Regions from separate parts of the Homo sapiens genome. Here region 1 is linked to region 2. Evidence: fine-mapped QTL for protein levels in blood plasma. A gene starts in region 2. The other region holds a variant in brackets. All regions are shown on one strand. Distances are between the middles of the regions. Region 1 overlaps SPOCK3 (SPARC (osteonectin), cwcv and kazal like domains proteoglycan 3). Region 2 holds the start of SPOCK3 (SPARC (osteonectin), cwcv and kazal like domains proteoglycan 3).

Region 1 (16,750 bases), 23 kb before region 2:
ATAACATATATGTGTATAAATATATATATCTGCAAACAAAATTTAATGAATTATTCTTATTAAATGACAGCTGATTCAAAATATATAAGAATTACATTAAAAAATAAAACTATTATGTTGTTTAAAAAGTTCATCAGCAAGAATGACTTGTGGCACTTTTCTCAACAAATATATGTTTGCTTTGGTAGCTAATGAGTCTTGAGGAAAACTAAATATTTACAGTGAAATATGAGCTATTCAGTTCAAATGAAATATTATATCAACTGAACACAATAAAACTCCATCTTAAGACTCAAGTAATTCTGTTAACAGATACCAATTTTTTTTTCTTTTTTCTTTTGTTTTGTGATGGTCCTGGACTTGGAGATTTTTAGTGTAATGAAAAACTTATGTTGCTGAAAATTATCAAAACTAAATGACTAAGAGGCCAGCTGCCAATTTGAAAGTAGTCCATAGAAAAAAAATCTGTTATAGGATACAAAGTTACAACTAGATAGGAGAATAGGTTCTAGTGTTCTATAGCACTGTAGGATGACTATAGCTAGAAGGACATGGAATGTTCCCAACACAAAAAAAACGATAAATGTTTGAGATGATGGATATGCTAATTACCCTGATCTTATCACTATGTATTGTATGTATTTAAACAATACTGTGTACCCTATAAACGTGCACAACTATTACGTGTCAACTATAAAAATTAAATTAAATTTTATAAAAATAAACTATGGATTTTGTCTATAAGTTGTTTTTATTTATTTGAAATAAAATTACCTGAGAATGCATAGGTAATAAGTATTGACAGATGTGTTGATTTACTGTTTATATAATATTGTGATTTATTTAAACTCTTTGACAATAAACTATTACTTTGACAAAATAAACACCTGCTTATAGAGGTAAATGAACATTCCAATACTACGACTCTCAGAGTCCTACCATTATGACTTTAGAAAGATTTATTTTAGAAAGATTATATATTAACAGAATACTGTCTAACTTTCTAATAAAAAAACTAAAAAAAATGTAGGAAATAAAAATAATATTTTCAATTACTACATCATATGTCATGTATTTGGTGTAAAATCACTATAGCTTTATATTTTTAAAACATGAATCTTTAACTATTTTAAACAATGAATAGCATAATTTAAAACAATGTTGTTTATTCATTTATTACCTACAAACCCACCATCTGTAGCCCTATTTAAAATATTTCTTCTAATATCTCATTTTAAATCTTGTGAAGCATGTTAGACAATTTTTGAATAATAGTTAATACAAATGTAAACCTATTTCAATAAGTTAATATGCAATTATAAGTTTTGGATCACTCATTTTCTGAACTACATAAGGAGATATACCTAATGCTAAATGACGAGTTAATGGGTGCAGCACACCAGCATGGCACATGTATACATATGGTAACTAATCTGCACATTGTGCACATGCACCCTAAAACTTAAAGTATAATAATAAAAAAAAAAAATTCAGTTTCAGATTGTCTCTGCTAACCAAGAATTGAGCCGCAATGCTTTTCATTACATGACAACGCATTTTAATGCTAAGCCAAGGAAGCCTGTTGTGTAAATGGCCTTCTGAGCTTCTCAGGTACTTGATACTCTTACTCAGGGCTCCATCTGATTTGAAGACCACCCCTACTCCCAGATTCCTAAGTATTTGGCAAACACTTTCTCATTCCTCAATACTGTGCCAATGAAACCTCTTCTATAAGAAATTTTCCAACTGAAAAGATGAAGGTAGTTCCCTTAAAATATTTGTCTTTGAATCACCATTGCCGAAAAGTGGGAAAAAAAAACTGGTCGGGGGCAATTTCTTAGAGATTTATTGAATGATAAGTAAAATTAAAATGGTATAATAACAACAACAGAGGTAACATTTGTTTCAATTATTTGTAGTTTGCTATTTTATTCATAGTTGTTCCCTCTGTGAGCAGAGATATAATAGGAAATGTAGTTGGTTTATTTTATTTTGGAGCATTATTTCTCTCCAAATAGTTACAGACTCAAGTCGCTTACTTTTAGGAAAATTCTTTGTAATTTAGGAAATCAGTAGAGAACACTGACTAAGATCTTTGGCTTCAGAGTCAAACAGGCCAAATCTAAGACTTACTAGCTATGTTATCTTGGGCAAACATCTTCAATTCTCATTCTAATATTCCAAATTTAACTGGTCTTTATTTTTTTTCATTTCTATTCCATTACTCCTTGTTGAACTAAGCACATTTTTGATAACATATTTACCACCTGATGATAGTAAGCTGAATGACATTTGATTTAGATTTTTGTTTATACATGTAGATCTGCTAAAAATATGAGAAAATATTTCTGTAAATTTAGCATGATTTTATCTGTGAAAAGGAATAGTGATTATTTTGTTAATATTTAGCAAGGAAACTTTCCTATAAAAGTTACAACTAATGAGAATCTTAAAACAATATCTTGATAAGGAAAACATTAAAATCCTGTTAACAGCTTAGAGTTATATTTGTTTGCAATCACTCTTTTCAAAAATTACATATGCTAGTTAACTATTTATTTGTATTTGCACATAGATCACTAATAGTGAAATATCTTTTTTGTCATTTTAATCTACAAATGAAGTGGATGAATATATTATAATTCAATTATTGTCTTGTTTGCTGTACAACAATCACAACTACTAGAGTCACCACTAAAGACAGAAGGGCATCTGCAATTTAGTTTCAATAAGCCAAGAGAAAGGTAAAATGGCTTTTGTTAACATTGTGCTTCTCGGACTGGGGTTCCTGTATTGGGTGCCATGATATGGAATGTTCCATGTTACTGGAAATGTAGTGGTTTCTCCTGAACTCCCAATATATCAGTTTTCTAAGTAATATTTGAAAATATTATTTTTAAATTGAAGCAAATATGTTTTTTGATTCTTAAACTAGGTTTTGATGGATGAGTAGAATTTTTCACTAGTACTAGAATGGAACAAAATGCAAAAGGCCTATAAATTTTAAATAAAAATGATATTTCAAAGATATTTCACAATGCTAACACTGAAGAATTTTTCAATCTGATATGGTATGGAAATGAATCATGTTTTCTGTGTTTGGAGGCTAGAAGAAAATCTTTCATGTCTTTGTACGTCCTATGTTCAAAAAATCCCCACTTTCCTTAAAGAGCTCCTGTTGCCCTATCTAGAATACACATTTTCCTCAGTTCTCATTTTCTCACTTAAATAGCCAGATTATAAAATGTGGATGGATGCACCAGCCATTACATAGAAGATCAATAATTGTGTACTGCATTACCTGAGAATGCAGGAGCATGTGCTTAGAACACTAGCAAATTGGGGACACTCAGACAACTGGGGACACTCAGACAGTTACAATATACAAAAAAAATTTTTAAACCTTAGTGAATTTTGTATTTATAGTTTTTCTAAAATAATGCAAAGTAGACATCATGGGAAAAAAAGCAGAACTTAATGGGAATTCCTTATACTAATTTCTCACTCTGCTTTCTATTTTGAATCAAATATAGGGCAGTGAAGGGGGACATCACAAGTTGTTCAGGTAGCAACAACTGCAAAAGTCTTCCTCTGACTTTGTGGATATCCATCAAAATCTGTCAAGGAGGCAATTGTAGGAGCACTCCTTTGTTTATGAAAATCATCAGCTTAGCAGGTTTTGGAAATAACTTCAGATCCTAGTCCTAACAATTTTCAGTCTCCTCTGTCTTGACTCTCTATCATTCACAATTTGTTTACGCACATTTAATTTCTTATACCTATGGAACATGCCACGTACTTTTATACCTCTATAACTTTGCATGTGTAGATCCCTGTCAGGTATGCTTTCTTCCACCTGTTCAAAGAACAAACTCTGCTCATTCATCAAAACACAGATTGAGTGTCATGGACTCTGTGAGGCCTTCATTGAATCACCTCCCACTACAGATGTAATTTGCATGTACTTATCTGACTTCCATTGTCACAGTGCATTGAATCATTATTCAACATGTCAATCTTTTCAACTATCACAAGGATTCTTCAGGGAGGAGATGGTACGTCTTGGGTAGTGGGCTAAAAGTGGCACACATGATTATTTAAAAACAAAGAGGTCTTTTCCTCTTTACTGACATGCTTTCAATCTCAATGATTATTTAATATAAATTCTATAAATATTAAAAGATAAATGTGTGTATTTAGCAAAGAAGGACTTTAACTTTATATAGATGAAGAATGTTTGTTTTTGAAATGATATATTTTAGCAATTTATTTTCTAAAGTGTTTTCTCATACATTTGATTGCCTGATATTCATAATAATCCTCTCATTTCCTGAAAAAACAAATATCATTCTCATTTTTAAAGGCTGAGTCATACAAATATATGACTAGCTCGAGAGCAAAATAGGTAAGTGCAGAAGGCTCTCTCTCTCTGTGTATCTCTCTCTATATATATGCAAACACATTTTTAATTTAATATCTGATCACATATTTCAGTTATTGCATAGACACTTCTGATTTACTGGAAAATGATAGATCCTGCATATTTTGGAAAACATGCTTAATCTAAATGTGGTTTAATTGCTAAACAATGAACGATTTTTTAAAGTTCAACTTAAGTTATAAATTATGTAATTGATAATGACAGAAAAAATGATTAACATATGTTATGTACTTAATATACATAGTTGCATCAGCATGACCTGGATGTGAGACATAGGGTTAAAGGAGATCATTTTGGAGCTTTAAGATTTGACTGCCCCTTGGATTTCGGACTTGCGTGCGGCCTGTAGCCCCTTTGTTTTGGCCAATTTCTCCCATTTGGAATGCGTGTATTTACCCAATCCCTGTACCCCTGTTGTATCTAGGAAGTAACTAACTTGCATTTGATTTTACAGGCTCATAGGAGGAAGGGAACTTGCTTGTCTTAGATGAGACTTTGGACGGTAGAGTTTTGAGTTAATGCTGATATGAGTTAACACTCTGGGGGACTGCAGGGAAGGCACGATTGGTTTTGAAACGTAAGGACAAGAGATTTGGAAGGGGCCAGGGGCGGAATGACATGGTTTGGCTGTGTCCCCACCTAAATCTCATCTTGAATTCCCATGTGATGTGGGAGGGACCCTCTATGAGGTAATTGAATCATGGGGGCAGGTCTTTCCTATGCTGTTCTCGTGATAGTGTATAAGTTTCATGAGATCTGATGGTTTTAAAAAGGGAAGTTTCCATGCACAAACTCTCTTCTCTTGTCTGCCACCATGTGAGACATGCCTTTCACCTTCTGCCATGATTGTGAGGTCTCTCAGCCACATGGAACTCTAAGTTCATTAAACCTCTTTCTTTTGTTAATTGCCCAGTCTCGGGTATGTATTTATCAGCAGCATGAAAAAGGACTAATACATGTACATATTGGAACATAGTAAATATGGTACTTTTCATTTTAACAACAGACAAAAGCATACTTTTAATCAATTGTTTTAGTGAAGCAATTTTCCTTTGCTGAGCTATGCAGATATAAAACAGAAACTTCAAGACCTATTTGCATTACTATTTACCAAATTGTTCAAATTGCTATACAATGGACAGTGTAAACATACTGACTCCAGCATCATTAGGCAAATCTCTGACCACTATTATCTGTTTGTCTGCTTATTCTGGCTTTCTGGAAAATAATGACAATAATACCTACAATACAGGGTTGTTATTAATATAAACAAACACATAATAAATGACAAAACCAGTTCTAATATATGCCTTTACTCCAAGGCACTACACTCTGTGTTGTGTTCATTTTAGATTTTTCAGTACAGTTTTGTTTTGTTTATTTGACTTTTTAAAAAAGATTTACTTTTTTTTTTTTGAAACAGAGTTTCTTTCACTCTTGTTGCCCAGGCTGGAGTACAATGGTGTGATCTCGGCTCACAGCAACCTCCGCCTTCCAGTTGCAAGAGAATTTCCTGTCTCAGTCTCCTGAGTACCTGGGATTACAGGCGCCCAGCACCATGCCTGGCTACTTTTTGTATTTTTTGTAGAGCCGGGGTTTCATCATGTTGGCCAGGACTGGTCTTGAACTCCTGACCTCATGATCCACCCGCCTCGGCCTCCCAAAGTGCTGGGATTACAGGCGGGAGCCACGGCGCCCAGCCAAAGATTTATTCTTATACCTCTGAATATAGACAGAAATCTGGACTCAAGAAAATTTTGATGATTTTAACCTAAACCATATTTTTCTATTCCTATTGCTTTGATAATAGCACAAGTTGTATCTGTCTCAGTAAACTTTAATGTAATTCAGAGAACCAACAGCCAAGGGACACATTTCTCCACCCACTACATCATAATAGAGAACAGAAATCACATTCAATTCAAAATACATTTAGAGTCATTTCAAAATTGATAAAGTACATTTTTCCAATTTGCTTACATAATGTCACTAGAAAATTATACTCTAGGGTATTAGAAACAGTGTGGTCAAGGTATTTTAGAAAATTAGAGTGATTTTTGAATATTTTTCAAGCTACATGACAAAATACAAAACAAATGAAACATAGAGCATTTGTCCACGTGCCTTTAAGAATTACCTTAGAACATTTGGTTTGGCCACTACCCCGTCTGTAGTGAAGATGCTGGAGCACAATCTACATCTAAGCATTTTCCAGACGTTTATTTACAGAAATGTTAATACTGCCACTGGCAGCATGTGATTGAATCGTTTAAGTTTAGCATAGATGGCCTGGTGTCAGCCTATGCTAATTGATGGCAAAGTAAATGGCAAAGTTGCTTTTCTAGGCCTCAGTTCCTTGCTAGGGAAAATCAACTTAATGTTTTATTTTTGTCCATGGAATAAAACTGTTTACATGTGCAATTTCTTCCTGTGTTTGTGCAAAAACAGATGCAATTCTGTGTTACGTGGAGCCAGAATGCCACAGAGATAGGTCACAGTTTATTCAAAATTGTAACTATTTTTAAATCTTTTCTGCTATTTGATGATATTAAATATTCTTGCTTTTTTCATGTCACAAATTGCATTAATGATAACATTATAAAAAAGGTTATGTGATATTATAAAATTAACTCTCCCCATAAGTGAGAAAACTTTAATATTTAACAAGAAAATTTTCTTTTATTTTGGTGGTCTTTCATTTTGTCTTTTTGCCAATATCATCTGCTACTTTATGGATAAAATGGAGCTAGAGTTTGAAACATAAACACTATTACCAGAAATATTCATTTAAATATAATGGAGGAAATAGAAATCTCTTTTTCCTCCATGATCAATTTCAACACCAATTATAAGTCAAAACATCAAGGCTTCAATATAAATACATTCAACTACCTTGCATTACCAGTGTTTGATGATGAAATCCTAAAAGATGACATATGGTGAATCTTGAATCTTTAGAAATTTTACAAAAGAGCACAAAATATATAACATATCAGATCACAATACCAATAAGCAGTCACCATAAAAAATTGTAAACGTCAAGGTGGCATTTCATCACACAGATGACTTAATCTATTGTACTGTCACAAGACTGCTTGATTTAAATATTTGTCTTTTTTATTATGATGAAAATTGAAACACTATAATCCTGTACTATAAAATGCTATGGTAATATTCAAGCAATTGGAGTACATGATTTGATACCAAATTACGTTCTCAAAGGCCTCATTTCTGCTTTTGATTTTATGAGTGTAGATGCAAAGATGCAACCTTTATTATATTGGTTGAGGATGTCTTCCAAGATGTAAATTTAGAAAAGGTTTTAAGAATATAGCAAAGCATACCATCATGAAACCACCCAATAGGTAGCAGTTGTAATGGTTTCAGAATTGTATTTGTTGTTACTACTGTTTTTATGTAGTTTAAAGAATAAAATACCTATAAAAATATTTGTCGTTATCTTTTTTAAGTAACTATATAGCATAGATTATAAACCCCACTTGTCTCTCATTAGTATTTTAGATTCTCCAGAGTTGAATGCATAACACTATAACATTATCAGCAAATAGAAAAAAACAGTTTAGCGAGAAATTATGATTTCAATTTTGTTTGGGGTACTAAAAACACTGTCATTTTTAAAATTCATGACTACAACTTCACATTACTTAATATACATTAGATTATTTGTCTTCTCAATAACAATCATTTGGTTTTTCCCAAGTGATTGTTCTTACCATTTTTATTATAAAATCAGGTTTAAAAGTTATCTTAAAATAGATGCTTTTCCAGGAAAAATAAAGTCTATAAATTTCACTTTTCTGTAATTTTACACACAGAGAATGAATCTTAGGGTGAATCTTAGAATGAATCATTTGAGTCTTAATAGCATTTCACCAGTGTTTCTTCTTACCTAAAATGTTTCTCATTTTTAGAAAGTTTGAGTTCAGACAAGATGCAGTGAGAACCCTTTCTCTAGGTTTGAAAGCTTACCTTGGGGCACCTAATTTATGTGATGACTTACAGCAGAAACCCAGCAGCCTACTGTTGACATTTTCATAGATCAGGAGTTGGCTGCTTGGAAGAGCAAAAACATGTTGCATATGCCATGGCAAACCCTCGATAATATACATATATATATTTACTGTATATATATTTACTATATATATATTTACTGTAGTTCAAACATGATAGTAAAAAGTTACAGTGTTCTTGTAAAGTAAATGAGAGTTTAAATGCAAAAATCAAAATTTAGGAAAGACTGTCTAGAAATTAAAAATGAATATGTGCTCCGTAACTACCAGGATCAATAGAAAATTTCTACAGAAGAAATAAGATAAAATGTTGTATTATCAACTAATAATATTAACCTGGGTTGGGGTATTTATACTAACTACTAACTCCTATACTTGATCTGCAAAGAATAGGTTTCAGTTTGCTTCACTTACCCATATTTGAATGTTTTATGACTATTCCTTCTGCACTCCTGGAGTGCAAGGTACAGAACTCTTAAGAAACACGGCTCTTTCCACTGCTGACACCGCCTTTCAAAAAGTGCTTCAGGGACTCATGAAAAAGACAGGTTGCATGTGACTATAGTAATCATGGAAGAGGTCATGGAAAAAGGAAAACATAAAAATAAGTCATGAAAAATGAGAATGAGATACGTAACAGGACAAAGGCCGCCTTTTCTAGATGAAAAACTCACTGTGAGGAAGACACAAAAAAAGAAAGAGCAGTGAATGTGGCGTGAAGATAGGTGATACCTGATTTGTGTGAAGAATGCATGAAAGAGGAAACAAGGATCCGAAAGCAAATATGGTTTGGAGGCAGGTAGTGAAGAGATTTTGGATTTGGGAATAGGAAATGTGGATGTTGTTTGGTGTTGATGTTTGAATAGAAAGCTTCTGGTAAGACCTGTCTATCATCAGGAACATCCTGGCTGCCTGTGAAAGAGCTCACACTGCAGTATTACCTTGATGAATTTCCCACCATCCATGATTTGGCCTTCAGCCCTAAAGCCTCAGAAACCTTGTTCTGTCAGCAGAAAACATGTTTCAGGAAGACTGGTACATTTGCTCCCTGAGGCTGAGCTGCATTAAAATCAGAAATTTGCTGGGTGAGCATGGAATTGAAGAAAGGAAAATTTTTGACCTGTACATGTTGTAGAGCATTAGAGTAATGTTAGAAATGACCACTGTCTTTCCTTAGTACTGGCAAATGTTGCCTGGGTAAATGATTTTTCTGTGTCTCACTTCAGACTTCTTCTGATGAACAGCCACCCTCCAAGTATATGTTACAATATTTGAAGAGTCTCCAGTAGACTTAGGAATCACATGATCTCCCTCTAACGTGACTATACATATATATGAACTGATCCATTATGTGGAGTTTGCGGTTTATCCCACCGAAAAAAATACCGTTTACAGATTTTTGGAAGGCAACTTACAGTTGCAGCTATATACAATCCTGTTCTGTAATACATTAAAAGATGAATAGAAGATTTTAAACAGAAGAACAAGATCAGAACTATGATTTGGGAAAAAAAATAATTGATCAAAAAAGTATTATTGGTGCTTGCAGGCAGGGAGAAGCCTGAAAACATGAAGGTTATCTACAAGACTAGCCTAAGGGATGGATAATGAGGATCTGGCCCAAAGAAGGGTGAACAGTCTTGGATTTGAAAAATACTGCAGAGAAGACCCTGACAGGATATGCAAGCGATTTGATTGGGAACGCTGAGGAGGAAGACAAGAGTCCAAGATATCATCAATAATAAACTTCCTGTAATTGCAAGGTCATTTAAATTTTTTTTGCACAGCTTTAAGAGTTGTGTTCTGTAGAAATGATGGCATTGCACAGCTCACTTTTACCTACGTTTTAAATAATCACAGCTGAGAACTGTGAATTCTCTGAATATTATACACAATTTTTTGTATATCTAAGTATTTTCTGAAAAAGTAACCATAGATATCCTCAAATTCTGAGTTTCTGCGCCCCAAAATAATTAAGGATTTTTGGCCCAGAAGATTAGCTTTGGAAAAGCATCAGTTTAATACATGTAGAAACACTTTATTATGTTGCAAAAGTAAACACTCATAACTGAATGACAATAGTACAGAGAAATCCTAAAATAAATATAAATAAGATCAGAGACTAGAGATAAACTACATTGCCAAACTAAACACATGTACAAATTGCCTTATCCAATGGCTTTGTTAAAGAACAAAAAACAATTTGTTAAACACGGTGAAAAAAAATTTATGTGGCTACTTTATTTGCCTTTTATTAATGAATGTAAACTTTAAAAAGAATTAAACAAAAGTTTGTTAAATAATAATTTGAATATCCTTAACAAGTTGGACAATTTTATTTACAAGGTTATTTCAGTTAAAAATTGTAATACAGTTGACCCTCTGTATCCATGAATTTCACGTCCATGCATTCAACCAACCACAGGCTGAAAATACCGAGGAAAAAAAGAATGGATGGTTGCCTCTCTACTGAACATGTACAGATGTTTTTTTTTGTTGTTTCTTGGTATTTTTTCCTAAAAAATACAGTAAAGCAACTATTTACATAGCATTTATATTGTATAAGGTATTATAAGTACTCTAGAGGTAATTTAAAGTGTATTGGAGAATGAGTGTAGGTTACATGCAAATACTACATTGTGTTATATAAGGGACTTGAGGATCCATGGATTTTGGTATCTCTCCTGGTGGGGGTGTCCTGGAACCAATTCCCCATGGATACTGAGAGAAGACTGTATATGAAAATATTTCAAAAACCTAAAAAATATGCTACTGCAAATTCGTATAACATACAAAATTCTATTAATATGTCCTTTACACAGCTTATTTTGATTATTAGGTGAGTTAGCCAATATTTATTTAAGAAAGAAACTTGGTGGTGGATAATATAACATGTGCCCAACTTAAAACTCAATCTGAAATACATATTTTCACATACTAAATGGCTATACATGATATAAATATTGCAACATTGCTATAAAAATTACTATGGATTTTTTATTAGGCCATCTAGGAGGAAGTTATTTAAATATACAGTTTCATTAAAGTAAAAAAAAAAAGTTAAACCCACAAACCAAAGGGTTTTAGCAAACAACAAACACAAATCAGAAACATCACAGTATAGTCCAAAAATAAAAAGGTGAAAATTAAGTTATGAAAGTCCAATAACTAAGAACAAACTTTTTTTAATTACAATTCCTAAATCACGCAACTACCTACCACTTACAAGAACTACTGCTACAAGAACAAGCTTTCTTATGTTTCTAACATGGCACATTTCTGAATAGCACTTAAAAGCTATTCAGGGGCACACAGGCTGAACAATTAGAAGTCAGGGAACTGCCCTTAGCTAAAAAATAATCGTGTGTTAATAGCAAAGTAAGTGTCTGAGATCCCCAGTAAACATTAACTTGGCCTCAGATGATGTTTTGACGTTTTACTTGACTTCTGATCCTAGTTCAAGAGTAGCAACTAGCACCAGGGGTGCTTTTGTCACCTTTGAGGCTGATGCCAAAGATCCTCTAGAACCTACACATTAGAGCAAACAGCATATTCAATAAAGAGGCACTCCTCCCAAGAATAAACATAAGACTTCTTGTAGCAAAGCCAGGTAGCTTTCAGTGACTCAAAGCAAACAAAGCAGTTCTGAAATTAGATGTCCAGATCTCATTCACTGACCTAAAAACTGCCTATGCTTCTCAAACTTATTCAAAACTTGGTTCATGGTATACATTTAAAAAGTTTTTAATATATTTTAGTCCCTAAAAACAAATGTGGGATATTTTTTCCTATCTTGACCACTAATTTGTTATCTGAATTAAACATGTCATTCCCCATA[G/A]ACCACCTTCCCATTTTAAAAAATTTTTATCTAGAAAAATATGTAAACGAAAGACAAAAAAACTTTAAATTCTGAAATAAACAATTTTAAATGACAATAACATTAGCAAAGAAAGTTAGCATATTTAATCAAAAAGAAATTCCAAGGATAATGTACTAAGTGTGTGGTCTATGTACGAATGCTCCTTTGCCTAGAGTTACTTTCAAATTTCACAGCTTCCAAACTAGCACTTCCCTAGTTATCAGTGTGGAGTGTGCCTTTAATTCACAGTTTCAGTAAGTACAATAGTTCTTAAAACTATAAAGTGTATAACATCTCAACTCCAAAAAAATATATTTTATGTCAAGGAAAAATGTCTCAGGTAATACTAGGTTAATGCTGTTGATACAATGTTCTAGAAAAGTTTTGCCTCAGGGATTGTTCATTTTAGATGAATCTGACTGCCTCAGGGACATCCGAGGAGAATATCAGATGTTGCCAAGGGCACCTCAGGCAGCCTTACTGGAAGACTAGGAGGTTGTCTATAATTTCACACTATACTGTATGCCATGAAAGGCTATAAATATTGTCTTGATATTCTAAAACCGATTCTCAGCAGATGCTAATACCATGTGCCAAGGCAATTAGCAAGCTCGTATTTCAGAGTATCTTGCCTATTGTACCCTATGTAAATATTTTGAAAGTCACAAAGTAGTTTGGTAATAGAAAAGCAAAAGTGAGCTGTGATTAACGGACTATCAAATTACTATTTTTAGGAGGTATATCTAATGTTTTACCAGTATTCAGGCGCACAATGTCTTGCAATGTTTTACATATCAGAAGACAATTAATTAGATTGAGTTTTGGCATTTTTGGTTCCTTTCTCATTCCTGTTAAATGAGCTTTTACTTATGCTAAGAATAAAGAACTCACAAAATTATCTAGAACACTCAACATAAAGATTTCAAGTTGACTGAAAGATTTATTTTAATTTTCGTTACAGAATATTCCATATAACCATTTATTTCACATACTTAGTATAAAATTTGGCATTAAGTTCTCTGTAATTTAAAAATAAATTACAGAAATCATTGAATTTTAATTTACTCAAATTTATATTTTCTTCAGTGTAGCAGCAAATTAATTTTGCTTTTTTGCTAAAATCTCCAAAACAGAACCCATGTTCAGTGTTATTGTTCATAATATCTTAAATGAAATTCTAGACGTAGAGGACTTCAAAATATATGTAGACAACAAAATATTCTTAAAAACTTACATATATTCCAACCTATCTTATATATGATAGGATTTCATTTTTTTAAGTCAATAACATTACATCTCTCTTTGATATTCAACATGGAAAACAGAAAACTATGTTTTCTACTAGGACAGAGATTGCTTGGTTTTCTCAGAACCCAGTCAACAATGGTTACATTTATGTTGTATTACAAATGATATGTATGTTGATTACGTATGATAGTAAGTTGTGAATCCTAGAATTTAATTAAAGAAAATAATTCCTTTTTCCATTTTACATAATTTGATAATAGGAAGAAGTCAAATTCTCTTCAGCCAAGAAAAGGAGGGGGTGGTGGCACAACTGTAGAAATTAAAAATTAGGCACAGTAACACTTAAAAAACAGCTTCTGAAGATGTTAAACTTCTAATCCAAACAACAGATACTGTAAGAACTTTTTTTTTTTTTTTTTTGAGACAGGATCTCACTGTGCCATCCAGGCTGCAGTGCAGTGGTGTGATCACGGCTCACTGCAGCCTCTACCTCCTGGATCAAGCAATCCTCCCACCTCAGCCTCTTGAATAGCTGGGACAATAGGCATGTGCCACCACACACAGCTAATTTTTTTTTTTTTTTCATTTTTGCTGAGATGAGGTCTGGCTTTTTTGCTCAGGCTGGTCTCAAACTCCTGGCCACAAGTCATCCTCCCACCTTGGCCTCTGGAAGTTCTGGAATTAACAGGCGTGAGCCATCCCACCCAGCCTAGTATTTCTTTTAACAGCTATTTCTGACCACATAAGATATTCAGACCTGCACTTTGATATCAAAAAAGGTCAGTAATAAAAATGCCAGTAATATGCTGTTGCCAAATATAGTACCTCTGTAGGGATAAACATTACTATTTGAACAGTATGTGATTTGAAACTACTGACATTTGTAAGACTAATGAAGGACAGGCAACTAGAAGTTTCCTACTGCAGCTTCAAGATATACTGATCAAATTATAGCAAGATCATGGTGATTCTGTATAAAGGACAATAAATTCTAATACAAATTGCAAACCTTAATCAATTCCTTGGTCTAGCAGGTAAGAAAATAGACAGTCAATGTGACCGTTTAAAAGGACCAACTTTATGTCAAAAGATAGAAAACCAAGCCAGGCACAATGTGACACACCTGTAACGCCAACACTCTGGGAGGCTGAGGCGGGAGGATGGCTTGAGCCTAAGAGTTTGAGACCAGCCTAGGCAACAAAGTGAAACCCCAGTCTCTACAAAAAATTAAAAAAAAAAAAATTAGCCACACATGGTGGTACATGCCTGTAGTCCCAGCTACTTGAGAAGCGAAAGTGGGAGGATCACTTGAGCCCAGGAGTTTCCCGCTGCAGTGAGCTATGATGACACCACTGCACTGAAGCCTGGGCAACAGAGCAAATTGCTGTCTCTTAAAAAATAAATAATATAATATAATACAACAAAAAAAGCAATTTGAGCTGTCTGTAGTAACTGTTTTAAAGTGGTCAACTGTTAATTTTAAAAAAACATGGTCTTTAGAGTTAGAAAGTCGTTTCAAACTTCACTGATTTTGAGCAGGTTGATTAAGCTTGCTGATACTGAGTCACTTTATTTGTGAAAGAAGATTAATAATCTCTACTTTTATGATTGTTAAAAGATTTTACCAAAAAGGAAAACATGTAACCCAATTAAAAATGGGTAAAGGACTTGAGCAGACATTTCTTCAGAAATGCTGTACAAGTGGCTAACAATTATATGAAAATATGCTCAACATTTCTAATCATTAGGGCAATGCAAATCAAAACCACAATATCAACTCACATCCATTCAGATGGCTACTAACAACAACAACAACAAAATGTAAATTAACAAGTGTTAGCAAGGGTGCAAAAAAATTGGAACCCTTATCCATTGTGAGTAGGACTGTAAAACAGCGTAACCACCACGGAAAACAGTATGGCAGTTCCTAAAAAAATTAAAAACAAAATTATCAGATGACCCAGCAATTCCACTTCTGAGTATATATCCAAATAACTGAAAGCAGGATCTTGAAGAAATATTTGCATACCTATGTTCATAGCAGCATTATTTACAATAGCAAAGAGGTAGAAGTAACCCAAGGTTTTTTATTGACAGATAAGTGGACAAATGTAAAATATACATACAATGGAATATTATTCAGTCTTTTAAGAAAAAGGAAACCCTGTCACATGCCACAACATGGATGAAACTTGAGGATGTTATGCTAACAAAAGCCAGTCACAAATAGACAAATACTGTTGTTCCACCTATATATCTAAAGTAGTCAAATTCGTAGAAACAAAAAGTAGAATGGTTGTTACCAGGGGCTGCAGGAAGGGCAAAATGGGATGTGGTTAAATGAGTATAAAGTTTCAGTTCTGCAATGAAAAAGTTCTGGAGACTGGTTGCAAAACAATGTGAATATACTTGACACTACTGAATTATACACTTAAAAATGGCTAATATAGTAAATTTTATGTCGTGCTTTTTACAATTAAAAATTATATAGATTTATATATAAACATATATATTACATATGAATATATGAATATATAATATATAACATGTATGTTATAGATTCATATATGAATATATAATATATATACATGTTATAGATTCATATATGAATATATAATATATACACATATGTTATATATTTATATATAAACATAGATATATATTATATATTCATATATAAATATATAAACATAGATATATATTTATATATGAATATATAAACATATAAACATAGATATATATTGATATATGAATATATAAATATATAAACATAGATATATATTGATATATGAATATATAAATATATAAACATAGATATATATTGATATATGAATATATAAATATATAAACATAGATATATATTGATATGTGAATATATAAATATATAAACATAGATATATATTGATATATGAATATATAAATATATAAACATAGATATGTTTATATATGAATATATAAATATGTAAACATATAATATATATTATACATATTTTATATGAATATATATTATATTTTATATATGAATATATATTTTATATATGAATATATAATATATTATATTTTATATATGAATATATATTTTATATATGAATATATATTTTATATATGAATATATATTTTATATATGAATATATAATATATATTTTATATATGAATATATATTTTATATAT
Region 2 (16,750 bases):
AATTATTACCACAGTTACAAATGTTGTTTCATAGTGAGAAACACTGAAAATGTACATTTTCATAAGAATTGGATATCCATTATTGAGAAAGCATTCTTAAACAGAGAGAACAGTAGTTCACTTTATTAAATATATCCAAATTACAAATAAATCTTTAATTTTATTTTTGATACATATTGTTGAAAAGTATAATAGCACAACTTTGTTGCCAGAAAGGAGGATCCCTCAATGCTAAGAGTATGCCTGTAACTCAAGAAATATAATCAAGGCACATCATAAACCTAAACAAAGTACTGAGAGAGCATTCCTTAAAGATTCTCATTGTTTGAATTTTAATGGCCTGTAGAGCCATAGAATACTTTATTTGGAGTAGACATAGAAACAAATTGTTGTATTTACTTTCTAACAACAGTAGAAGTTGATAGACCCTCGAGAATCTTTACCCCTCTGTAGCCCACTAAGTTCCAGGAAATATCCCACACCATCATCCATTATCTCTTAAATAATCTGTGCACTTAAGAACCTCACCTTAGATGAAAAAGGCAAATAAAAAGAAAAAACAAATTAAGAATGTTCTGCTTACTATTCAACACCCACAAATCAGATATTTTTTAAAAGTCAACTTATAATTTGAGTGCCTCTGAGACATGTCAGCCTGTATTTTACATTTTCTCAATATTCTACATGTTCTTTAGCTTACATTAAGGTTAAATCTGTAAAGTTAAACTGTAGAACTTTATTATTACGTTAAATATACCCAAAGGATATTAAACATCACTTAAGGAATAAATGTAAACTGAAGTTGATTATGGTTTCTATAACACTAGTGGTCACCATTCCTTAAAACAAAAAGTTCAGAATGAGCCCCAGGTATTTTTATTGAAAAACAAATTTAATTTAATCTAGAACTATTTGAATTTCCATTAAAGGGTACAATCCTGTTTTTATTATATGAGTTACTTAAAAATTAGCATGGCCATCATTCCTCTTTTTTCTAAGTTTTTATTATATTGATTCCAAAATACAATATTTGAGGGCTTCTCATATTTTATCTTTTTTTGTCATTCCTAATTAATTTATGTATTTCAGTGAAATCAATAATAGATAATTTTGATAATGTTATTATACCATGCATTACTAAGTAATTCATTGGTTCCAAATTCCATACTCATTTATTACATGATAAAGGGTATGGTTTAATTAAACTATAAAATATAAATATTTGAAATATGCAATACATAAGCCACTCGAGCTAATAATTCAGTTTCCTCATAACGATGCTGATTTCCAATTCTCCTAATATATTCACAAGAATGGGATGAATGAATCCTTTACTCCTGCTCTGGGAGAAAGTAATGGTACCCCACAATTTTCCCACTGAGGAATCTTGTGTACTTAATTTTATCACTAGTCAACAGAGCCCCCCACCAAAAAAAAAAAAAAAAAAAACCAGCATGTAACCAGTATATCTACTGAATATATACCACTGTTGAGGGAGTTCTTATTTTATTTTATTTCAAAATCACATAATTATAACCTAAGTAAAGCATGCTGGTTCTATCTACTGTACTTATGTTTAAATGTGTTGACTTTTCTGTATCTTTAGATTAAGTGAAACTTGTATGCTTTCCTAAGACATAGATATTAAAATCCTTATCAGAATTTTTATACTAATAACCAAATAAATTAATAATTTTCAAAACAGTGAAAGCTCTTTATGTCTATAACATTAAGCATCGTACACTCCAAGCGTCCTTCAAAAGGACAACAAAGGTAACAAACTTTATTCAACAGACATTGCTAGCATAGAGCAGTCAAAAATACTTGAGGTTTCTCCTGTGTTAACACCTACTCATTGCAAGCTTGTTTCTCCTGTGTTAATACCTATTCACTGTAAGCTTGTCTTTGCTTTCATTGCTTCTTTAGCATTTATATTGAGGAAATCAAGAAAATGAGCCTCAACGGCAGTAGTTTTTATGCTCACCTACTCTCTCGTAACTCTATCCATGCTCTTTGTTCCTAAAGCTTTATTGTAAATCAATTATATTTACATACGTATATTACAAATATATAAAGAGTAACATTTATTTTTAAAATTATTCAATTAAAATATAATGCTAAATTGTATTTTTAAATATTATTTAAGATACTTTTAAAATGTATTTCAAAAGAAAGAACAGTTCAAACTTTCATTAAGGAGTCACTTGTTAAACAGTGCTGATTATGTAAAACAGTCACTTCGGAAGAAAAAATAATCATAAGGATTAATCCAAGCAATAATTATGCTGATGCTTTCCAAGGCTTTTGTATAAATAAAATTAATTATATTTTATGGGAAAAAAGCACAAAAGTACTTCAGTTAAATTGTTTCTCAAATAAGAGGTTCAGAATTCCATGTTTCTTTGCCCTCATATAAAGTGAGTACATAAATCATTATTTGAGATATGAATGCTCATGCAGAACATTTAAAGGTAGATTCATGCAGTATAGTATTATTTCAAGTAATGCCTTATCGCCATGTGCTTCCAGCTGAAAACCAACTGAAAAATAACATCCTGAGAGCTACAGAAAAGATTATTAAGCTAATGATTCCCCAAAAGGGAAAGAATATACATAAATAGCAGTGGGGTGGATGGTCTAGATAAGGATTATATATTATGCATTCTGAATTATTATTTGAGAAACCACACTGTCAGCATACCTTTCATCATGTTAATAATAAGCAACAGGTGGTTCAAGGGTAAAAAATGATGGCATTTATCCGCTCCATTCCCTCCAGAAGTCATCTTTGCAAAAACATAACTGTCTTACTAAAATGGTAATACTAAAACCTGATGAAAGTTTTTCAAATAAATCAATATTTATTTTTAGGTGTTGCATATACTTCAAAACAGATATTTGCATAAAATGTATCAGTAAATCCTTTTTAAAATTTATGTACAATTTTGATGGACTTTTTCCTTGAGATCCTAGAATAACTGAGAATGATATAGCAATAAAATCTCCATCTCTATAGAAATTGACTCCATAAATTCTAGCATATTTAGCTCTATAGTAGGCAACTCAGCTTGTCTCAATAGTTTAAGTCAAACACATTCACAAACTGTCCAAGTCCCTCAATAATTTAATAAAGTAATTTGAATAAAATAAGAGAATACTAAGTTATTCAAAATTTAAAATACATTTTAGAGAAGAAAGCTTTTATCTCTGCTCTCATTGAAGATAGTAATACTCTTACAATTCTCCCAGCGAGGAATCTTGTGTAGTTGATTTTATTAAAAAAAAAAAAAACCCAAAACAAATAGAAAACAGCATGCAACCAGTATTACCTACTAAATATATCCCATTGTTGGGAGGTCTTTCAAAAATTCATTTCTAGAAGATTTTAAAGCAGCCATTAAATAATGAAATGTCATAATGTCAAACACTGTTCAAATACTGATGAAGTGTTCAATTTTCGTTTTTGTTTTTGATTTTGCCAAATGAGGGCATGATAAACAAATTTTCTTTAGGTTTAGGAATATCTCACTCGCTATCCTTTTTGCTTGTACTCAATATTGGTGTAAACTTAAAACAAATATGCAACGGGTATGCTTTTATAAGGGCATTTATTTAGCAATAAAATGATGCTTAAGCTTTGTTCATGAAGTATGTAGGCAAGGTTCTCCATTAAATATTCTCAATCAAATGGCTAAACCTAATTTTAAAGTAAAAATTTGTGTTTCTTCAGGAATCCCTCTGCTAGATTTGGCTTGTCAGCTACTTCATGGAGAGGCTGAGAGAATGGGTTAGAGGAGGCAGGATGAAAGCTAGCCTAGGCTCCCTTTTATTTTCCTAAATGGTGACTGAGTCGGAGCTGATGAAAGAAGTTAACTCATCTCCACGTAGTGCACTGCAGATGGACTCCACGAGAAATTCTCTCAAATGTCACGGTAAGGATTGGCAATGTGTCTAGGAACCACTCTCGCTCCAGTTCAGGCCTTCCGCGTTTTAAAGGGTGGGCTAGGGGCGGTATTCAGCCAACAGGGCGGCCTCCTCACTGGGACAACCAAATTCAAGGCTTCCAGTTGTATCGTGCTCTGTACGTGAGCAGCTCTTACTGGGCTCCATTCAGATCAGGTGAGGAAAATAAAAATGACTGGCAAGCCATGGCCACTAGCTTCAAGTGTGGAAACCTGGCTCCCTCTTAATAACCCTTTTGAAAACTCCCCAGGGGAGTCTATGGTTTAACTCTTTTATCGCTGTCACCTGCAATCCTCCCGCCCTCGCAACCTCTTCCCGCAGAGTTCAAGGCAGTGATTCATTTTGGAATAAAATATAATCAAATGCATTGCAAAGATGTTCTAGATTAAAGTCATGTCGAAGCACAAATCTGATCGACAATTTTATGTAAGCGGGAGCGTTCAACGAGTCCTTACTGGTGCCGCCAAACATCCTCCCACCCTTGGAGAGCGGGCATTTATAAATCTTACATCTTCCTACCTCCTCCCTCAAATTCCTTAATGGACCATTAGTGACAGGATCGATCCTAGTTACTTTAGTAGCGATACATCGCAAAGGCACATCTGCTGTGTTTACCAGTGCCAGAAACACCATTCAAAAGTTGAGAGGTTAGAGCCAGCACTTTGTAACCTTTGTGGGCCGGGAGGGGGCACAGGGGAGAGCAGGGTGGGGGAGGAAGAGTGTGAACCTGGTGAGACCTGAACTCCTGTGCATCCAAGAAACAAGCCCTTGAACCAGCTGGGAGGGGGCAGCGGAACTGTGAACTTCTCCAGCAGCCCTGCGCCGCCGCGTTTCCCTAAACCCCTCTCCTCAGAAAACGGAGCCCACTCCCCACCCACATCCGGCGGCCGCGGCCCCCGCCTCGGAGCAGCGCGCGCGTGTGCCCGGGGATGTGGGTGCGCGGAACTTACGTCTCGGAATTTGTTCCACTGTCCGACTTCCTTGTCATACTGAGAGATTGTGGTGAGCCATTGTTTATCATCCAGAAAATTACCGCCGTCCGACCGCCCCCCGGCTGCAGCCACCGCCGCGGCAGCTGCGAGAGACTGACTGCACCAAGCGGCTGCACACACACACAGTACGGCTGACACCTTGAGCATCTGGGAGAGGAGACACAACGGGGGGTGGGGGGGCATGTCAGTGTCAAATAAGGGGTACGAAGCCAGGAGCGACCCTGGAAAACATGCATTAGCAACGACGAGGGTAGAGGGAGGAGGAGACAAGCAGAGGCAAGCGTGTCCCCTCCCCGCAGGCTTTACCCCCAAAAGCCGGGCACTCACACACACGCAGACCCAGAGGAGGAGAGGTGGGTATAAGGAAGCAAGCCCCAGCCGCAGCAGCCCGAGCGGGCACAAAACCGCTTCCTGGCACATCACCTTGTTGTGAGCCAGCACTGTGCTCGCAGCTCCTGCTGGAAATGCAGCCCTGCTCTGCCAACTCGCTGCTTTCTGGAGCTGCTGCACGCGCCGCCGTCTCGAGCCGTCCACTCAGCTCCCTGCGCCCGGCGCGCTCCCCCCATCTCCACCCTCCCTTCGCGCGCGGATCTCCAGCTTACTCCCCTCCGTTCCCCCTCCCTCCCCGACCTCCGTTTTTTTCCTCTTCCACCTCCTCCTATCCCACCTTCCTCTCGCTGGATCCCAGCTACAGTTGGCTCCGGATAGGACGCTTGGCTGGAGCCAGAGGACGAGGTAGCTCCTAGCCTAGGAATCCTTATCTGCTTTGTAACCTCTCCCCTCCAGAAGAGGTTCTCATGTTCGCGAGACAGCCTGCTCATTCTCTGCTCCTGGATTTAACACAAAGTGTACTATCTCTCGCAGTTGCCTCTGCTCCACAATTTCCAGGGTTGTCAGGCAGACGTGAGAAACAAGATCTGAGGAAAACTTTATGCATTAATAAATAAGAATACCTGGACTTCCTACCCTGTAAAGCTCCTGAACTCAGCTCCTCCCTAAAGAAAGGCCATCTATCCACAAGGTCTTGGGAGATCTGTTTAATTTCAGAAAATTTAAAGTTTGCTGTGAGCTTCTGGATTACTACCGACAGCAAACTTTCATGTTAAAGGTTGCAGTTTCTTTTTTTCTTTTCCTTTGTGTGTGTGTGTGTGTGTGTGTGTGTGTGTGTGTGTTTTGTTTTGAGAGACAGAAGCATAACGAGGTAGGGCGTTTGAGAACACCTATATCTCCTACATACTGTAGCTGCATTTTTCCCTTTATAAAAACTCCCTGGCAGCTTTATTTTAGAACGTAGAACCTGAATCGGAAACTTTAAAAGCCTACTGTCTCCCTCCTGCAAAATAAGACAGTTTTGAAGCCCGAACACCAATTTTGTATTCCAAACTTCCATTTATGACAAAATATTTGGCTTTCCATGTCGTTTCTACATATTCTAAATAAACTGGAAGGAAATCAGTAATTAGCCCCTTGTAGAGAAAATCTGATACAGAGAATCTCTCATATTTAGAGAATTTAGGTGAAGTGAATATTACACATAAATCAAGAAATGTCTGCAAGCCAATAGACTGCAATAACATTATGAATCTCTATTTGAATTATTAGAGATTTCAGCCAAAACTACATCTCCCAAAGCTACGACCTTTGAACATTTCTTGTAGCCTCCAAAACTTCAGAAGCTATTCGAATAGCAGCAGTACACATTTTCCATATCAATCTCGTCTAACATTTTGCAATCTATATTAACAAAACGACCAAACTCAATGTTTAATGTTAATTTCCTTTTTTAATGTAATATTTCAAAATAAATGTATAATATGTATGGTAGGAAATATAAGTGTAATATTTATATAGGAAAGAAATTTCTATTACTATTTTTAACTCAGAAAAAGATGTTTTTCTCAATTCCCCCCATTTCTACAGTGATGAATGCAATTAGTGGAGAAAAACACGGAACATACTACTGCAATTCATGGGAGCCCTGATTGACACGAACAAATGTCAGAAAACTTTAAGAATATAGATGTGTGCTAATTCTTCAAAGATATTTATTTTTGCCTGTTCACAGAGGGTTATTACCATGTAGTTTACATATTTAAATTCTTGTTTAGTAAATTTATTAAGACAATAGTAGGTGGTCCATTCTCCACTATCACCTTTTCCTGACCCCTGGTCCTTTGACCTCCCACACTCTCATCCTTAGCTCTCTTCCTCAAAATTTGAAGAAATACTTTATTATTAATAAGAATATCTCATCATGTTTTAAAACCTCATTATTTCTAAATTTAAGTCTAATAGGGAAAGCACAGAAATTGTTTCTTACAAGAAACTGATACTTGGCAGAAGTCAGTAATTCTAAAAGTAAAAATGACCTTCTAACCTTTGTAACTTACCTTTTAAAAAGATAGTTGTTATTAGCTACAAAATACTTGATGAGGAATAATGCTCTAACACTCATCCCCTTCAGCATCTGCTATACATTTTAGCTCAATAACTGGCACCATCTAAGGCCAACATGGTCACCTTTAGATTTATGGAAGCACATATATTTATGTTTATACAGCATTTCCCCCCCAAATACGTCTATTTTGTGGCTGACTCTCCAATGTTCAGAGCATGTTTTCACATCTAGCTTTCACTGGCAGCTTCCCATACTGCAGCTCCACAGGGACGTCTCCAAGTTGTGAAATTTGTTGAAAACAAACAATGACAGTTGAATTCATCTTGGGAGAAATGCCTTTGATAGGGTTTTAAACTACAGATCTGAAGATAGAGTAGGATTTACTAGCAAATTGCAAGTTTAAAATTCTAAAGTCAAAAGAGGCAGAGTGAGCCTGTCTACAGTGTATTTGTGTTGGCCTGGTGTGGTCCAGTCACCTGACTGCTCCTACAGCTCCTTAAGCTTCTCTTTCCAAGCCATTGCCATTGTCTAGGCTAAGTGGGCATGTTGGTAGTGAGAGTCAAAGTCTAGTAGGTGTGATGTTGTGATGTTATTAATCACAGGGAAAGGTTTCTATCAGTTTCTCTATATATCAATATTTTGGTCCTCAAACAGCCTGCTTTCAAGGTTTAAATAATCCTAGGAGAATTCACACTTCAGTTAACACCTTGGTTATCAGTTATCACCTCAGTGGGGATTCATTGAAAGCTTGCTGAGAGCAAAACACAGCAGAGAATAATAAGGGAAGAGTATTAGGTGGGCAGTAAGATATTGGAAGAGAGTAGTCAGGAGCCTTGTATGTCAAGGTAGGTGAGTAGACAAGAAATACTTCACTGACTGCTTCCCAGATAGATGGAGAGCCAGTCTAAAAAACTGGAGAAGCCAAAAACGCAGAAAGTGGGGTGCAGCATATGAGGTGGGTAAAGTGAGACGCTGGTGCCAGGGCTGGGACTTGATTTTATTTTTCAGATCATGCTTTACAAAATTGGAACTCAGAGCAAGACACAGGGCTTCAGATTCCCAGCCCCTTTGTTGTCATTCTGCCACCTGATGCAGAAACATAGTTTAGATACATTATGAAAAGCCAATGCTGAGGCCACTGCTAGATTGAACTTTGCTTTCATATTTGTGTATTTGTCCCTTTAGTTGTTCTTTCTCTCTAAACGTTCAGTAAATCAGTCCACAAATATCTATCATGAAAGATGTAAGGAACATTTTTGATAGGTATTATTTTAATTAAATGTATTTCTTCTGAAGGTTTCCTTACCCTCATTTTCAGACATGACACAGCTCTAGAAATAAAAATGCTAAGCATATATAATGACAGCTGGTCCATTTCTAACCGCCTTTGAGGTTGGATCCATGACCTTCATATAACTCCATTTATTTAAATGCGTGCACAACGTGCACACACACACACACGGTGTGGTCTTTCATAGGTTATTTTTTTCCCCAACAACTATAAAAGCATGCTACTCCATTATCTGTAACCAACATGAGGATATGCAGGAAAGGTCCAATTTATTGCACATCTTCCATGTGCCACACACAGAGCCAGGCAATTTACATGCATGATACCTTTTAGCCTTCACTGCCTAAGATCCTATAGCTACTAAGTGCAAAGGAAAGTTCTGGAGAATGATCAAGCTACTTTGTTTCTAGATATTTTTTCTCTATGTAGAAATATCTCTGAATCATCTTCTGTTTATGCTCTTTAATTCTTCTGCCCCCATATCTTTCCTTCTCCACCTGTTGCATATTTATTTATCTATCTCTATTTCAGTAAGAGCTAGGACTCATCTATAATTAAAGGCAGGAAAAGAGAGAATGGCTACTTCAGGGAGCTTGCTAAGCTAGGCAGAAGCAGCTCCACTTGTATAATGAGCACCTTAGTCCCTGACTCAAATGATGACCCTGTCCACTGGAATCTTTCATCTCAGCAGCATCAAGCCAGTAGCCCAGCAGGCAATCCGACTGGTTGGCTGAGAAGAGAATTAACCAAGACTGCCTCTCTCTCCTTATTGCAAAAGTGTTTGCCAATCAAGCAAGTGTTGTTTGTCTTCCCTGTAGGAATACATGCTTCCCATTACCTTCCCAGCTGGTGGAAGGTAAGGAGACATGTGCATTAAGGGATTTCCAAGTGTCTGACTTCACCCAAAGCTGTAGTTTAATGATATATGAGTTAACCTAAAAACAAAATTTGGCCATTTCTGAAATATTTCATTATAAGGCTAGGGAAACAATACCTGATATATAAAAGTCAACCATCTAGAATGGTGCCTTATACCAAATCCATCTTTGAGTTTAAATTAAGCATATAAAAGAGGAAAAAAAATGAAGGAAAACCCTGGGTATTAAAAACTCAGGAGTAAATTAAAGACGTCATAAAATGATGTCAAGAAGGAACACTCTATGTCTTCATTTTGGAATTGTGTTTACTGAAGTCTTGTAAGTCTTAAAAATCGTGTGTTCTTAATTTAATAGAAAGTAGCACCATTACTAGTATGTGCATTGAGGATATCAAAAACAAACAAAACCAGAATGGAATTTCTAGAATAGGATGTTAACAGACTTTTGTTGTTGTTCGTTTGTTTCTTTGTTTTTAGAGATGAACCCACTGAAGCAAACTTGGAAGATATTAGGTACCTAATTTGATAAACAGGACCTCTTGTGATTTAACTTAATCTAAAACATTCAGTAGATAAACAGACTTTAACAGCTGTAGTAGATATTGGAAACTCATTAGTCAGTTCAATTACTATAATTCTTAAAAAGGTATTTTTCAACATTTAAACCATAGGGTGAAACTGACTGAATTAACTGATTACTAAGGAGATGATAGGAAAATGGCCAATAAGGCAATTAAAGTTTGTGTTTTCTTTAAATTGAGATATATGTTTTGACTTTGTAAAATAAAGACTTTCTGAAAAGTTCAATGAGCATTAATTATAAATATTTAAATTTTCCTGAGGGCTATGAGACACTGACACAAAAAAGGATAAAATAAAATGTTTAAGAATATTTTAAAAATAATTTCACTCTATGCCCATGCACAGAAAGACACACATTCTTATATTAAGACTATTAAATTTAAAAATTTGCATGTGAAAAAGGTTTCTAAAAACACCTCGGTTCTTGAGATTTATACCAATGTGTTTTTAAAATTTTGTTAAACCTGCATATTTATTAATGATCTTAATATAAAAATATATGGGGAGCCAGTTTATTCTTTGACTCAGAATTCTACTTGGCTGAGTAAGGTATATTGTTCTAAAATGGCTATAGAGTTTCTATAGTCAAGATCTACAAAGAACCTTCTATGTTTATCTTTGTAAGTTGTTGTTTGTTTATTTTTAGCTGACCAGTGCAAAACGGGCATTATATATCATTCGCTGTTAAATTACCATGGGTTAGCTATTTTCAGAGGATAAAAACTATCCCAAGTGCTATTGCAAATTCATGCCACTTATTTCTGTCCTCTTGGGTAAATGGAGAGTTCCCTTAATGTGAGGCAGTCATACTAAGAAGGAGTATAAGGTTAAGATTACTGTCCATACATACCATGCCAAGCATCCCGTTTTCTACAAGATAAATGAAAGTAAGGAAAGGAATAGGATGTTAACAGGCTTTAACAGGCATTAGTTTAATTTTAGTTTAAAAATTAAACTAAAATGTGAAACAATTTTTAAATATGTTTATTGATTGTTCTCTAAATGTTATACAATAAGCTTCAAACTAGGGATAAAAAATGTGGCTAAGTTGAAACATGATCTCTCACACTCTTGTGAGCAAAAACACATAATTTAATAATTTAATTAGAGTACAATGAGTGAAGATAGATAATATATGGAGCAGGTTTCTTCCTGAATTAATGAGGGCACTGAAATCTGAATGTATTGTCCTATAGAAATAAAAAGTTGACAGGTAGGCTTGACCTCAGACAAACAGCTCAAACAAAGCTGGTGAGCTTCTCCATCATGTGCCAGTTCAATCAGTGGACTTTATAACATGAAACTTCAACCTTCCAAATTCAGGTGCCTTAAACAATGGCATAGCACTTACAAATCTCACATTATGGAAAAGGGAGAGATTCTTTTCCTAAAATTCATTCACAAGAAAAGAAGAGTTCCTCCACCTTGGAAGCTTTAACAGTTCTGACCTTGTATCATATTGGTTTTCATCTGGTTACATGTCCAACCCTAAAATAATCCCTGGTGGCAAAGATGATGAGAAGTGGACAGTGATAACCCAACACTCAAGCAGTGATAGGAAACAGTCTCTACCAAATCTTTGATTTGTAAGTCTGAGAGGGACTAGTTCTTCAAAGAACAGAAGATTAGAGCACTGTTTCACCAATGGCAGGATCAAAGATGGCAAATGTAACCGATTTCTACCAGAGACTTGCAGGGGATACTGTGGGAGCAAAGAAAGGGGTCATTTAAGAGACAAGATGTGAACCTTGAAAAATAAGCCTTAATAGTCAGAAAAAGAGTGGTAAAAATAACATGTCTTGTGGAGGGAAGAAGGTAGATAAAATCAGAGAGATGTGAAATGACATGATGTTCACAATAATGTTTTTCCTTATCTAAAATGTTAATATATAGACACAAATAGAGTGTATAACACTAAGTGAAAAGTTGAAGCGAAAAAATATCTCTCTTAAAATAATGTTTTTGAAGTGTTTTTCAATCTAATATGCCTCACTTAGCTGCCTGGAAAGCTTTCTAGTGCTCATTGATGCTCAGAGAATTCCCCTGTGAATCAAGCAAATTCTTGTCTTACTTTTTAGAACATAAATACACATGGGATAGCACAGATCAATAATGCAAACTCCTCTTTTGTTTTTTTTAATAAGTAAAATATTTTTGCTCTTACAATTTTTTAAACAGGCAACAATAATTTAAAAGTTTACTCTTCTAATCAAGCTCTGGGTTGCAATCAACAATGACACAGCTCAATTTAGCTCGGGTTGTACTGTGAATTGAGGTATTTTTTCTTGACTTTTTAAAGGAGTTTTTAATAACAAATTTAATTTTTTACTTGGTATAGGAACTATTCAGATTATATATTTCATCTTGGCTTGGTAGTGGGTGGATTTAGAGGAACTGATTCATTTCTCCCAAGTCTTTGAACTTACGAGTGTAAAGTTATTTGTACCATTCTCTTCACATGTTTCTTGTGGCTGCATGATCTGTAGTAATAGCGCCCGTTTTATTACCAATATTGGTGATTTGTTTCTTCATTCCACTTTTGTTGGTCTTGCTAGAGTTTTATGATTTTTTTTAATTTTTTGATAAATTAACTTTTTGTTTTATTGATTTTCTCTGTTAGTACATTGGTGCAAAAGTGACTGCAGTTTTTCCCATTACCTTTAATGACATTTAATGACAAAAACCTCAATTTCTTTTGCATCAACCTAACATATTCCTGGTTTCAATTTTATTAATTAAAAAAATCTTTATTATTTTCTTCCTTCTGCTTGTCTGGGTTATTTTGCTCCCTTTTTCTTAATGTCTTAAGGTAGGAAATTAGGTTATTAATTTTGGAATTTTCTTTTTTCCTAATTATAAGCATTTTGTGGAAGAAATTTCCCTCTCTGCACTGCTTTAGTTTCACCTCACATATTTTTATGTATTTTGTGTTCATTTTTATTCGGTTCAATGTATTTTTGGTTTTCTTTCAGAATTCTTCTTTGACATAGGTTATTTAGAAATGTGTTGTTTAATTTCCAAATGTTTGGAGATTTTTATATTTTTTATTATTAATTTCTAGTTTTTTCCAAATGGTCAGAGAACACATTCTGTATGATTCAATTCTTTTAAATTGGTTGAGATTTATTTTATGGCCAAAGATCTTAGTTATTTTAGACAAGAAAATATACATACTTAACTTCTCATATTGAGGTTTTACCTCTTTGAACAAAACTTAAAAGACCTTACCTTCATTTGTTACCTGGAATATTTTCTCTACATACATGAGGCAACACATTTAAATGGCATTATAATTTTTGCTTCAACCATCAAATATGATTTAACTTATAAGAACAGTATTATTTTATTTACCCTACTTTTTACCCATTTTAATGTTCTTATTTCCTTTAGGAAGTTCTAAGACTATTTTTGGTTATCATTTTCTTTTTCTTTAGAAAACTTCCTTTAGCCATACTTCAAAGGTAGGTTTGCTAGTGATTCTTGTTTTCAGTTTTCTTTCATCTGAGACTGTCTCTATTTCTTCTTCATTCCTGAATGATAGTTTCACCAGATAGATAATTCATGGTTGACAGTACTTTTATTTTAGCACTTGGAAAATGATGCAACCTTTTCTTTTATGCCCCATGGTTTCTGTTTCATATGTGAAATCCACTGTTATGTGAATTGTTATTCTCTATGTAACACAATCTCTCTCTCCAGACAATTTCAAGATGTTTTGCTTTATTCTTAGTTTTCAGAAGCTTAGAATGTGTGGGGGGTATATTTATTTGGTGTTAATTCATCTCTTGAATTAGTAGGTCTGTGTCTCACCATATTTGGGGAGTATTTGCCCATTATTTTTTTCCAAGTACTTTGCCAGCATTTTTTTCTGAGTCCTCTTCTTTGACTCCAATAAATAAATGTTAGTTCTTTTGTTATTGGTTCACAGCTCACTGAGATTCCGTACTTTTTTAATAAATTCAATTGATGTGTTTACTGATTTTCAAGTTCACAGATTCTATGCCCGGTCAACTTTACCCTACCACTTAGTGAGGTTTTTATTTCAGTTATTATATTTTCCAGTTCTATAATTTCCATATTTCCACCTGGTTCTTTTTTTTTTTTTTTTTTTGGCGGAGTCTCGCTCTGTCGCCCAGGCTGGAGTGCAGTGGCGTGATCTTGGCTCACTGCAAGCTCCGCCTCCCGGCTTCACGCCATTCTCCTGCCTCAGTCTCCCAAGTAGCTGGGACTACAGGCGCCCGCCACCAGGCCCGGCTAATTTTTTTGTATTTTTTAGTAGAGATGGGGTTTCGCTGTGTTAGCCAAGATGGTCTCGATCTCCTGACCTCGTGATCCACCCGCCTCAGCCTCCCAAAGTGCTGGAATTACAGGCGTGAGCCACCGCGCCTGGCTGTTCTTTTTATATTTTTCTATTTGCTTGCTAATATTTCTTATTTTTTTCATTTTTAAAGAGAATTTGTAACTGCTTGTTGAAGCAGCATTTTAATGCTTCAATAATCTTTGTCAGCTAACTCAAACAACTGATTTCACCTTAGTACTAATGTGTGTCAATTGCCTTTCTCAATTTGGATATTCTGTTATGACTGGATTCTATTTCATCTTTTTTTTTTAAGTATGTACCCCTTATTGAATTATATAACCAGAGTTAGGTGGGTAAGTTCAGCTTTCCAACTGGGTCCTGCCAACCCTACTGCTGGCAAAAGTGGAACAATATATTGCCTTTGGAAGATGCTTGAGATGGACATTCAGCTACTGCCAACATCTTCCCAGCAAAAGTGGGATACCTCCTTGCCTTTGAGTTGGGGAGCAAGGCAGGGAACTGAGCTCCCTACTTAGCCACAGTGGCATCTGGGAGGTGGGAATTAGAAGAGTGACCCACACCTCTTTGTTGCTTAGCATGAGGGGAAAACCTCAACTACTCTGGAGCCACCTGACATTAAAGGATGGGATGGAGGCAGAAATGCCAACTAGCTTTTACTCCCAATACCTCAGTCACCCTTGTTAATAACTGGTGAGTATGGAAGTTTGACTCCTCAGTGGACTCCAGTAACACTAATAACTGGGAAAAAATGGAGTGCTGATTTTCTGGGACTCACACTGCCTTATTCAATCTCTCAATGACTAGTAAGGGTGGAGGCTCAGCTCTGCCTCCCTGGTTCACGCCATTCTCCTGCTTCAGCCTCCCGAGTAGCTGAGACTACAGGCGCCCACCACCAAGCCCGGCTAATTTTTTATATTTTTTACTAGAGACGGGGTTTCACTGTATTAGCCAGGATGGTCTCGATCTCCTGACCTCGTGATCTGCCTGCCTCGGCCTCCCAAAGTGCTGGGATTACAGGTGCCCCTGTATAAAATTGCAGTTTATTCACTGACATTTGGCTGGAGTAGAGTGGTTATTGCCAAAAACAGGTTTCACTGTAAGGCTACCCTTTTCCAAGTCCTTTGCTAAAGAAAACCAGATTTTTTTCTGAGGATTTTTGTCTGTTCCCCTTGCCACTTCCAGGTTGGAGCCTTCTGCGTTACCTTGTCTGGGATATACGGATAAGAATAAGGAGCCCAGTGAACTCACCTCCCTGTTGTTTCTCAACTCTTGAGGTCCCTAAGCAGTTCATTTCCTTCTTTCCAGCCTTTCAGAGTCTTCCTATACTGATTTTTTGAATTGTGTTCAGGGTTTTTTTTTCTGCTGTAAGAAGGAGATTTTGGGTAAAATGGGATACTCCGTCGTTTTCACCAAAACCAGGAATCTCTTGACTGTTTTTTGTTTGTTTGTTTTGATGTGTTTTGTAGAGTCAGGGTCTTACTCTGTTTCCCAGGCTGGAGTGCAGTGGTGCAACCATAGCCTCCATCTCTTCTCTTCACCTCACCAGCGGCTCACACACCCCCATCATCCCAGCACAAGTACAGCCTCGAACGCCTGGGCTCAAGTGATCCTCCTACCTCAACATCCCAAGTAGCTGGGACTACAGGTGCCCATCACCACGCATGGCTAAGTTTTTTGTTGTTGTTGTTGTTGCTGTTGTTGTTGTTTTCCATAGAGATGGTGGTCTCACTCTGTTTTGAGCTCTTGACCTCAAGCAATCCTTCCAACTTGCCCACTCATAGTACCAGGATTGCGGACATTAGCCACTGCACCTGGACATTCTTGACTGCTTTTAAATAACTAATTCATTGGCTCTACCCTGATATCTGCTTTCACCATCCCTCTGAAACAGAACTCTAAAGTTTAGCTGGTAATAAAAGACGATAGTTCTCAGTCTTCTTTGTAGCTGAGGGAGCAACATAGTTCTAGCCAATTAAGTTTAAATAGAATTCATTAATTCTCTCTTGAAATGTCTTTACAAGGTAAGGGTAGTACCAGTTTTCTTCTTCCCACTTCTGGGATAAAGGCCTAGATGGCTAGAACTCTACCAACATCTTGTCATCTCTATAATGCAAGTCAATTATTGAAGATGTCAGAAAAACATGATAGGAACATGAGTCCCTGATGATATTGGGTAACCATTTCAGATAGAAAGAAATAAACTCAGCTGGGTGCGGTGGCTCACGCCTGTAATCCTAACATTTTGGGAGGCCAAGGACTTTGGATCACCTGAGGTCAGGAGTTTGAGACCAGCCTGGCTAACATGATGAAACCCTGTCACTACTAA

Evidence for each region. PIP is the posterior inclusion probability: the model's chance that the variant is causal. Sun 2018 read protein levels with aptamers (SomaScan).
Region 1: its variant is fine-mapped to the plasma level of the SPOCK3 protein (Sun 2018, PIP 0.95).

Annotation. Positions count from the first base shown.
Region 1 is chr4:167,206,398-167,223,147 of GRCh38, forward strand. The region is part of intron 2 of SPOCK3 (SPARC (osteonectin), cwcv and kazal like domains proteoglycan 3); the gene reads right to left. Among named protein-coding and RNA genes, the nearest start is that of SPOCK3, 20 kb to the right of the region's middle. The variant G/A (reference allele first, on the strand shown) is at 12,311.
Region 2 is chr4:167,229,072-167,245,821 of GRCh38, forward strand. It overlaps SPOCK3 (SPARC (osteonectin), cwcv and kazal like domains proteoglycan 3), which reads right to left and starts at 5,423. Exons shown (of 11, transcript NM_001040159.2): 1 at 5,379-5,423; 2 at 4,914-5,102. The coding sequence starts at 5,102.